3 linked regions of the Homo sapiens genome follow. The protein of the gene in region 3 purifies or fractionates together with the protein of the main gene of each other region. This does not show direct contact. Each region holds a gene or a part of one and is shown on either strand. Other genes may lie near its edges.

The links.
Region 1: the proteins of SLC6A13 (region 3) and ABCB8 purify together in Homo sapiens (affinity purification with mass spectrometry; one large-scale study listed by BioGRID and IntAct). This does not show direct contact.
Region 2: the proteins of SLC6A13 (region 3) and SNX13 purify together in Homo sapiens (affinity purification with mass spectrometry; one large-scale study listed by BioGRID and IntAct). This does not show direct contact.

Annotation. Positions count from the first base shown.
Region 1 is NC_000007.14:151,041,816-151,045,464, reverse strand, and holds part of ABCB8 (mitochondrial potassium channel ATP-binding subunit), read right to left. Parts: intron 3,505-3,649; coding exon 3,357-3,504; intron 1,495-3,356; coding exon 1,244-1,494; intron 257-1,243; coding exon 116-256; 3' UTR 1-115. UniProt on the Homo sapiens protein: ATP-binding subunit of the mitochondrial ATP-gated potassium channel (mitoK(ATP)). Together with pore-forming subunit CCDC51/MITOK of the mitoK(ATP) channel, mediates ATP-dependent potassium currents across the mitochondrial inner membrane.
Region 2 is NC_000007.14:17,930,447-17,934,095, forward strand, and holds part of SNX13 (sorting nexin-13), read right to left. Parts: intron 1-3,649. UniProt on the Homo sapiens protein: May be involved in several stages of intracellular trafficking. May play a role in endosome homeostasis. Acts as a GAP for Galphas.
Region 3 is NC_000012.12:252,834-256,482, forward strand, and holds part of SLC6A13 (sodium- and chloride-dependent GABA transporter 2), read right to left. Parts: exon of another isoform or gene 3,640-3,649; intron 915-3,639; exon of another isoform or gene 609-914; intron 1-608. UniProt on the Homo sapiens protein: Mediates sodium- and chloride-dependent transport of gamma-aminobutyric acid (GABA). Mediates transport of beta-alanine. Can also mediate transport of taurine and hypotaurine.

The sequences.
Region 1 (3,649 bases), on a different chromosome or scaffold from region 3:
AGCGACTCTCCACATGCTGGCCCTCCTGGGGGCTCAGTCCCCAGTAGGCTCCCCCAGGCTGAGCCCCAGCCCTAACACTGATGCTTGGCAGCGACCACACCTCAGGGGGCCCTTCTCAGGACTTGTGCTGGTGGCTCCTGGGGCCTTCTGGCTTTTTGGGCGGTGGGGCCGCTGTCCTCGGGGCATCCAGGGCCTGCCTCCGGATGAGCTCGGCGTATAGCCCGCCTTTCTTCAGGAGCTCTTCATGTGTCCCAGCCTGGAAGATGGGAGGGAAGGGCGGATGGTTGCTCCAAGGCATGCAGGCTTCAGAACCCTCAGAGAGCTGAGCCTCTCTATCAGCCATTGGGCCCATGGTCACTTAGGCCGGTGTCCCTTCTGGGGACACTCTGAAACCAATGCCCAATCTGAAAGGAACCGCCACTGGCATGCTGCATTAGTTACTGCCACTTCCTTACTTAGCTGAATTTTGGAAGAACATGATTCCCTCTGTCCCCCTTACAGAGCCCAAGGCTCCAACTCAGGATCCGTCTCCCTGCACGAGCCCCTCAGCCTTGGCTTGAATGAGTGGCTGTTAGCCAACGCCACACGGCCTCTGGGGTCCTACTCCTGACTCCCTGCACAGGTTCCTTGGCGCTGCTTCTCCTGCACCTGATACCCTGGGCAGCTAGCCCTGCTCCTTGCTCCCAGCACCATACTCTGAGTATGTTTCCTTTTTGTTTTTTGAGACAGGGTCTCATTCTGATGCCAGGCTGGAGCGCAATGGCACAATCATTGTTCACTGCAGCCTCAACCTCTGGGGCTCAAGTAATCCTCCCGCCTCCGCCTCCAGAGTAGCTGGGAGTACAGGTGCATGCCACCACATCCGGCTAATTTTTTTTTTTTGGTATTTTGTAGAGACAGGGTCCCGCTATGCTGCCCAGGCTAGCCTCAAGAGATCCTTCTGCCTTGGCTTCCCAAAGTGCTGGGATTACAGGCACCCGGCTAGTACTTTTCCTTTTGATCCTGGGAGCTGATGGTGCAATTATACTATCCCAGGGGACAGAAGAAGAAACTGAGGGCCTGAGAGGCCAGGGCTTGGCTGAATGCAGGAACTCCTGACTCTATATGGGACGCTGCTTCCAGAATATAGCCCCCAAGGCCCTGGGGCCAGGCCACAACTTCATATAACTCATTGCAGCATTGTGCCACTGTCCGTGATGAAGCCATCCTCAACCCACTGATCCACGCCCCCAGGACAACTAACCTCCCAGACACGGCCATCGGCCATGACGACAATGCAGTGGGCCCCACGGACAGTGCTGAGCCGGTGGGCAATTACCAGCACCGTGCGGCCTGCACTGGCCCGGTCCAGGGCCTCCTGTACAACCCGCTCGGACTCTGCATCCAGCGCGCTGGTAGCTTCATCCAGTATCAGCACCGTGGGCTGCTTGATAAGGGCTCGGGCGATGGCCAGGCGCTGCTTCTGGCCCCCAGACAGGGTAGTGCCCCGTTCACCTGGGAAGGGAGGGGCAGGGCAGGAGCCTGAAGCTGTGCACTTGAGGGTGGCCCACAAAGGGGCACAGGGTCCTTCCTGAACGCCCATCAAGATCCTCTAAGTGCCCCTCTCAGCACTGTGCACCCTCCTCCTGCCTCTGACCCCCACCCCGCACTGTGCATCCTCCTCCTGCCTCTGACCCCCCACCCCACACCGTGCACCCTCCTCCTGCCTCTGACCCCCACCCCGCACTGTGCACCCTCCTCCTGCCTCTGACCCCCCACCCCGCACTGTGCACCCTCGTCCTGCCTCTGACCCTCTACCCCGCACTGTGTACGCTCGTCCTGCCTCTGACCCTCCACCTTGCACTGTGCACCCTAGTCCTGCCTCTGACCCTCCACCCCACACTGTGCACCCTAGTCCTGTCTCTGACCCTCCACCCCGCACTGTGCACCCTAGTCCTGTCTCTGACCCTCCACCCCACACTGTGCACCCTAGTCCTGTCTCTGACCCTCCACCCCGCACTGTGCACCCTAGTCCTGTCTCTGACCCCCACCCCGCACTGTGCACCCTCCTCCTGCCTCTGACCCCCCACCCCACACTGTGTACACTCCTCCTCTGGGTTCCCCCTGCACTGGCTCATCCCACCTCTGGGTCCCTCAGCCACTGTGCACACTTGCCCTGCCTCTGAGGGTGGTGTGACACCGCCAGCAGGGCTTGGTGCACTCCAAGGGAGTTGCCAAATGCCCCTCCCCAGCCATGGCAGTGCCTCAGGCCAGGATGACCCACACCCTGCCCTGTGCCTGCAGTTCCAAGCCACCTTCCCAGCCTCCCGGGTCTCTGTGGCTGTGGGGAACATCCAGCACCCAAACATGGGCTCTGGGGTCCAGTGACTCCAGGGAGGTGGGATTCGAAGCCCACAGAGGACAGCACAAGTGGCAGCCTGGGAGCCAAAAAGAACCTCAAGGTGACAGCAGGGTGACAGGTCAGTAAGGACGCAGCCCCAAGAAGGCCCAAATGAGCAGAAAGTACTAGGATCAGAGACACAAGGAAAGTGCCACCCAAAAGAGATGTGGGAGAGCACCCAGTGAGGACAGCTGGCATCTGGACAGTGTATCAACACGGCTGGAGGAGCCATCTAGAACACGATGGCTGGGCTGGGGACACTGGCCCCACAGCTCAGAAGGCTGGACTCAGACTGACCAGAGTTGAGAAGCCCAGGTATCCCTGTATCCTGAGAAGTGCTGAAACACTGTGCAACAGAGCCAAGACACTGGCCGAGAAACATGGCCCCGAAGGCTGGAAAAAGACCTGGGAGCTCCGCACGTCAAGCTGCAAGGTGCACGCCCTGCAGTGCCAGGCTGCGTGTTCCTAGTTCAGAACCACCAGAGCCCTCTCCTGGGGCCCATCCAGTCACCCCGATTCTAATGAGAAACGACTTTAGAGATGAAAAGCACAGGAAGGAAACAGGAGCCAGAGGGGGATGGATGGTGGAGAGGAGGCAGCCCCCCATTTCTTCTGTTCAGTCTGGGGAAGTGGCGGCCTTTTAGACTCGGTGAGGACTCCAAACACCATGCATCACTGTGTCCCTGGCCAGGAGCCTGTCATATGCCCTCTGTCGCATTCTCCAGCTCCTCCTAGAGCCCGTCCTGTCTCTGCAGCCTGCCTGGTCTGCTGGTTCTGAACCACACTGGCCTGGACTCCCCTGTCCCCACACAACGACTCTGTCCCCTTTGGCTGTGGTTCTCGTCTTCCCTGACACAACTGTCTTTCTCCCCAGCTGTCCCTGCTGCCCTCAGTCCCACTGGGCTGCTCACTGCTCCTGTGGAATCCTGTGTCCCAGTGCCTCACCACCTGGTTCCCGGCAGACCCGAGCACCCACCGACGACCGTGTTGTAGCCCTCGGGGAAGCTGGTGATGAACTCGTGAGCATTCGCTTCCCGGGCGGCTGTGTACACCTCTTCATCGGAAGCTTCCAGCTTCCCAAAGCGGATGTTTTCCATGATGGTCGTCCCAAACAGGACGGGCTCCTGTGGGTGAGGGGTTATGGAGACAGAGTCCATAGAAACATTCTCTTTGCCCCAGAAACTGGAGGGGCCACCATACACAATGGGACAGTCTATCTGGTGGATTAGATTAGGATCTCTTGAAGAATCAGACGTTCAAAGTCAGAGG
Region 2 (3,649 bases), on a different chromosome or scaffold from region 3:
AACACTGAATCCTAGTATAAAGATAATCTTTCATCATCACATAAATTTTGTGTTAGTGCCTATTATATGATTGAATATTCTGAGCTGCTGTTATTAATTTCTGGAATTTCAGATTCATAAAATACATTTTTAATGCATCATAAAATACTCTCAAGTCTACTTGGTTTTTCTAAACCTTTATGCAACCAATACTCACTATTTGGAAAGTATATTATTTCAGTTTCTTTTCCTGTAACTTTGTGGTGTTCTGCCCTTCAACCCCTGGGCCACAGAGCATTACAGGTCCATGGCCCATTAGGAATCAGGCCGCACAGAAGGAGGTGAGCAGCAGGGGTTAGTGGCGGGGAGTGGGCTTTTCCACCTGAGCTCAGCCTCCTGTCAGATCAGCTGGGACATTAGATTCTCATAGGAGCACTACCCCTATTGTGAAGTGCACATGCAAGGATCTAGGTTGCATATTCCTTATGAGACTCTCATGCCTGATGATCTAAGGTGGAACAGTTTCATCCCGAAACCATTCCCCCCAACAGCCGTCCGTGGAAAAACTGTCTTCCACAAAACCGGTCCCTTGGTGCCAAAAAGGCTGGAGACTGTCATTGTAGCCCATTTATTTTACTCTCCTGACTCCCACCAGGATTAACACTATTGCAATACTTTAAGTGTTGAGCAGTTGGGTACCATACAAGAAAAAGATCAGATGTTAGTAATTAATACCACATGTAAAATAGCTGATTATATTAATAGTTGCAGTCTGAATTAAACACCAGTTGTGTTTCTCAGCTGAGAAAAATTCTGAGAAAACAAGCTATCTCAAACTCTGGAAGAGAACAAATTGCAAAATACAATATTACAGCTTGGAGAAACACTGGATAACACAATATCACATCTTAAAGTCAGAACATTATTTCCTAATATTTATGTAATAACAGAAATACGGTGAAATTTTATTTCACATTTAACTCTTCCACTAAAATTGTACAACTTCAGTTTTATAATTTCCAAACTTCACAGGACAATGAATCCAAAGGCCATTCTCCACAACTCTAGCTCGAAAATAAAAGAAATCACAAAACAAAGAATCACAACTCTTTCCTATGCTAAGCCAGTCAGGCTAAAAATAGCCCCCAAATTTCAGGTATAATACCAATTCAGGTTTAAATGGAATAAGAACCAAGGATTCTCCAACAATGCACAGCTAAGGTCAAGAGCAAAGCTGGATTCACCTTAGGGTCTTCACAGATGCATCAGAATAAAAAGATCCCTTAGGAAATCAGAGAAAACAGTGCAATAAGTAAACAATGGTGAATTATTCCAGTTAATATACATGATCCTCTCATAAGTATATTTACAGACCATTATTCTACTTGAACAGTGGAACAGAGCAGAATCATCTTATTGAACTTTTCTGGTATATATTATTTCTGAATATACAGTGGAATTACAGATGGGCAAACGACATAACAGTACTCTGTCTCCAACATTGAACAGAGACGCATTTTAGTTAAGAGACTGTGGTAGCAGCTGCCCTCCTTAAAAATGGACCCCCAAAATTTCCAACTTTGAAACCACGGCCAAATTTTTACTGATACTTACAAACTTTCAAGATAGCATCAAAGGTCATACAAATTGAAACAGTCAACAAAGTGCCATGAAAATCAGCATTATTGTACTATTACAGACAAAGCTTTCTTTAAATGTATCTAGTTTAGGAATTAAACTTTAAGTAATATTAATGAAATCATAATATCAAGTAGTAAGAGATACAAAACAAAATCCAAGTCCCTCTTGCATTTATAATTGGTTATATCAAAGTAACAACCTAATCAGATTTTTCCCTGTAGGAAAAATTAAGACAGAATTTCATTCCTAACTAAAAGCCTCAGGTTCAACTTTTTTTTGTCCCATTGCTCTTAAACACAATATTTAACCACAATGTACTTACTATATAAAATGTCTAATGAACAGATAGTAACCAATCCTTTAAGGGTAATTAATATGATGGTTTAAATTTATCACTGACAATTTCATCTCCGTAATTTTTCACTTTAATCTTAATTTTTCTTGAGGAAATATTCAACATTCATTCATTCAACAGATATTTAGTGAGGCCTACTAAGTATCAAGCTCTATTCTAGGCTCTGGGAGTACACCTATGAGGCCCATCCTCAGGAGTTTACTCTATTAGGGAAAAACATGTAACAAGCAAATAAATATATACATAACACATGGAGGTGGGAACAGCAGGATCAAGTACTACTTTCACCAGGTTGACTCTTCAATTGCAAGAAATCCATTTCAGAGCTGCTGTCTCATCCAAACTAGTAGATTTACCAGGAGTTGTAAAGCTAACCCAAGTCACAGTTATCTTTTAATTATATTCTCCAATCTTTTCCCCTCTTAACTTTTCACCCTTTAGTGGTATCATTTTATTCTGACAAAAGACCTCAAGGCTCCCACTTTGATGGCCTAAGTGGTACAATGCTAAATTTAGCGCTGATAGTGATTTCTGAGGACAGGTTTCCCAACTGACTCACCACTTCAACACTAGAACTTATCAGCATGTGCCTAGTACAAAGTAGGCATACTCTTGTTTGGTGAAGAAATCAATCCATAAAAATCAATCTCCAGCACGAGTTATAACAAAAGCCTTATAAACATTATCCTTAATAACAGCTTTTCAAGGATTTACCAAGTCTGATTAAAAATAAAAGATTTTTCTTCCCACAAATGTTTGGGAATATGTACAGACAAATGACTGGTAACCCTCAAATAAATCATCTTTTTCAAAACATTTTTTAGAACTTTGCTTTAAGGCGGCCGGGCCCAGTGGCTCATGCCTGTAATCCCAGCACTTTGGGAGGCCGAGGCGGGCGGAACATGACGTCAGGAGATGGAGACCATCGTGGCTAACCTGGTGAAACCCCGTCTCTACTAAAAACACAAAAAATTAGCCAGGCGTGCTGGCACGCGCCTGTAGTCCCAGCTAGTCAGGAGGCTGAGGCAAAAGAATCGCTTGAACCCGTGAGACAGAGCTTGCAGTGAGCTGAGATCGCGCCACTGCACTCCAGCCTGGGCAACAGAGCGAGACTCTGTCTCAGAAAAAAAAAAAAAAGAGAGAACTTGCTTTAAGGCATTCATTGAAATCGGTTTACCAACCACACAAGAAACTATCCCCTTTTTTCTCTTTCACTTCTTTTAGTCTATTCCCTGTCTCCCCTGTAACTGCACCACTAGCCAGGAGACTCCCCTCCTAATTTCCCCTCAGGACCCACCCACCTATCCACCAAGAAAATAGTGAGCAATAAAACTACATGGAGCCTAGGATTTACATTCATTAGTACAAGGAATATACAGAAAAAAAAAAAAACCCGATGTACTACCACTATTTCTATAATGACTGGCAATTTACAAAGTTATACCCTCCATCATCTTATATGATCTTCATAACAATGTAAGAACAGCAAGAAAGGTGCTATTACCCCAATTTTACACAGAAGGAAATTAAAAGCTTAGAAAGTTCAAACTAGTTCCCCAAAATCCCATCATAAATAAGTGATAAAGTTGAGACTCATCCCTTATAGTGCTTAACATACAGGTTTGTGTGTTGCCATATGTATAATTTGTTGATAGACACAGTATTTATCACTAT
Region 3 (3,649 bases):
GTCAGCTGCTCCCACCTCCTTCCTCTGCCTCGTTGAGCTCCTTGGCAGCCTGCCAAGAGGGACAAAGTCCACACCTGCAAGGAGGGGCTACAGGCCCTAGAAGTGTGAGAGGGGTCGGGGTGGGAGGGAGCCAAGGGGGCCAGGTACGGACTGAGGAGTGCTGAAGGGCATTCTGCCTCTTCCCCTCCGCAGGTACCACCATCAAAAGATGAAGTTAGTCCTGGGGATGGGGGGTGGAGTTCACAGTAACCTGCACCCCCATATCATCCATACTAGTCTCCTCAAAAATTCTAAAATGTGCTGGCATTTTCTCCGTGAGATAGGAGAGACCATATCCCCGTCCCAGAAAGCAATCACTCTCTTGGCCCCCCTTCTCAAAAGGAGCACGCTCTGTGGTGTCACTTGTAACGTTCCAGCCAATTTCTTACGGCATAAACTGACGATCTTCCACTTGAGCAACAGAAGAGCGAGGAGCTTCCATGAGGAGTTATGTGCTGTCCTCGGCATGAGCCTGACCAACAGTGGGCCCTGAGTCATTAACTACACTTGGTAACACACTGTCACTCACTGCTAAATTAACCATTACTTTTATATGAACACACGAACAGTGCTTCTTATTTCTCTTTATTCTCTGCTATCTATAAACAGCACAGGGCTAATGGTTTTCCTTGCTGCCAAGGGAATCCTCTTTGTGTGGGCATCCCAGTGCACCTTCTTTACAGGCTGGAGCTGAGGGATCTTTCCCCTCCAGGCCCTTCTGAGAGGTCCTGCTGTGTGCCTCCTGTCGTGGCCTCACATGGGGACTCCAGTCCCAAGTTAATTCTGGGTGTTGAGCAACTTGGTCTGCCAGCAGCCAGGGTCCAGGCAGTTGGAGAGGTCTCAGCTGAAGGCCCGTGTTCTGAAGCACCCAGGACCTAGGTATGGGAAGACTGAGGCTCTGAAGAGGAGTTGGAGGGGACAGGGAGGAAGTCCTCGCAAAAGATGGTCTCCAGCTGGTGTCCTGAGACTAGTGGAAAACTTAAAAGGTTCTTGGCACGGGTAACTTCTGCCCCGAGTGAAATTTCAGCAACCTGGACTTAGAAATTAAGTGAAAATGTTGGCAGACGGTTTTTTCATCTGGGCTGAGATAGGCAGGAAGGTGATTTAAATTCCCCGCTGGCTATGGACAGTCCTATGACCAGAACCCTCTCCCGCTACCTTCTTCCCACATCACGCCTCCTGCGTTATCCAGCATCTCCTCGTCCCATGACTGGAACTTTAACTGGGCAGGCCCTAGTAGAAAATCGTATTTGCTTTCCCTCCTGGCAGCTGAGGGTGGAGGGCTGGAGGAATAGTTCAAATGTCAAGCTTCTTCAGCCGCCTCGCCAGCTCAGGGCCCCACCCCCGAGGAGTCTGGCCACTGGCACACTGTCACTGCTACGCAGGACTCACATGGCCCCCTTCCGCCCAGAAGGGAAATACACAAGGAAGGGGTGGATTTTACCTACTCCCACATTTTGCCCCAATAACCCACATTTACTATTTCCAATTCCTTTCTCCCATCTCCCCCATTATCTTAAATCCATTTCAATCAGTCATTGTCCCCAGCCCTCCACTGTAACCGCTCTTATCATCAATGACTTCCCAGCTGCTAAAACCAACAATCAATTTCCTTTCCTCATCTTCTTAACCTATCTGCAGCCTTTGCTGCAGTTAATTTCTCCCTCCTCCCTGATAGAATTTCTTCACTCGACTTTCCAAAACACTTCATTCTCTTGGTTTTCATCCTGCTTTACCAGTTTCTCATTTTCTGTCTCCTCTGCTGGTTTCCCATCTTCTCCCAGACCCACTAAAGGTCCTTACTTTCTTTTCTTATACCATCAAAATGCTAATGATCCCCAAATACACACCTCCAGCCAGATCTCTCTCACAAACCCCAAACTCACATTCTATTGCCCAGTTGCCATTTCCACATGGACATCTGATAGATACCTCAACTCAACTTTCCCAAAATTCACCTCCTTACTTTCCCTTCAAAACCTGCTCCTCTGGGGCTAGGCACAGTGGCTTATGCCTGTAATCCCAGCACTTTGGGAGGCCGAGGCAGGCAGATCACTTGAGACCAGGAGTTTGAGACCAGCCTGGCCAACATGGCGAAACCCCCTCTCTATTAAAAACAACAACAACAACAAAACAAAACACAAAACCTTGCTCCCTTCATGGCCTTCCACGTCTCAGTGAATGGCAGCTCCTTCCTTCCAGTCACTCAGGTGAAAACTCTCGGATTGCTTAGATGGGTGCTAGCAGTGGAGGGGATGAGAAGTGGTCGGGTCCTGCACATCTCATCGCGGGGGCTCTAGTCCCAGGCATTCGGGTGCTGAGCTACTCGCTCTGCCAGCAACCAGGGTCCAGGGAGCTGGAGAGGTCCTGAAGCTCCCAGGACCTGGGTGTTTGGGTAGAGTCAAGAGCTATGAGAGGTGGAGGAAATTAAGGATGACTCCAAGATTTTTGCCTTATAACCAGTCAGCTTCTGCCTTCACTCCCCTATACTCAGTTCTCAACATACCAGCTAGAGAGATTATTTTAAAATGTAAGATGACTGTCCGGGCGCAGTGGCTCATGCCTGTAATCCCAGCACTTTGGGAGGCCAAGGTGGGCAGATCACCTGAAGTCAGGAGTTCGAGACCAGCCTGGCCAACACGGCAAAACCTCGTCTCAACTAAAAATACAGAAATTGGCCGCGCGTGTTGGCGCGCGCCTGTAGTCCCAGCTACTGGGGAGGCTGAGGCGGGAGAATCACTTGAACCCAGTAGGTAGAGGTTGCAGTGAGCTGAGATTACGCCACTGCACTCCAGCCTGGGTGACAGAGCGAGACTCCATCTTGGAGGGGGCGGAAATAATGTGAGATTACTGCTGCCCAAAACCCTGCCCTGCATCTGAATGTCACTAGAGCAAAAGCTGAAGTCTGAGAGTGGCCAACCTGACATACCTGATCTGCCCCTCTCCCTGTCCCCAGCCCATTTACTTCCCTGACCTTACCTTCTATTCACTTGCCCAGCTCCAGGCTTGAGTCCTCCTCAAACAAGCCAGCCAGACTCTTGCTTCGTTTCAACCTTTGTTTCCTCTGCCTAGAGGAAAGCACTTTCACCCAACCCCATAATATCCACATGGCCAGTTCTCTCACTCCTGGCAAGGCTTTGCTCACATGCTCTCAATGACCACCCTTTTAAAAATTGCCACCACCCACACCCACACTCCTGATCCCCTTTACCCAGCTCTCCTTGTTCTTTTTCTATAGCACTCATTAATTCTGGAATGCTACCTAATTTACTCATTTATCCCATTTATTGTGTAGTGTCTGTCTCCCTCCTCTAGAATGTATGCCCTATGAGGACAGGGAATTGGTCCGTTTTGATTATAGATGTATCCCAACCACCTAGAACAGTTCCTGGCTTTTGCTACGTGCTCAGTAAGTATTTGCTGGTGAATGACACAGGCTCAGGGCTTGGCTGAGTATGCGCCGAGGCAATGGAAAGAGACTGGAAATTATAAAGCCAGTAGGATGAAGCAGGTGCCTGGGGGTGGATCAGCTGCAGGTCCTGGACAGCAGGGAGATTATTTACCCAGGAGATGGTGGAGGCGGGCATCCCTCTCACTCACCTCCCTAAAA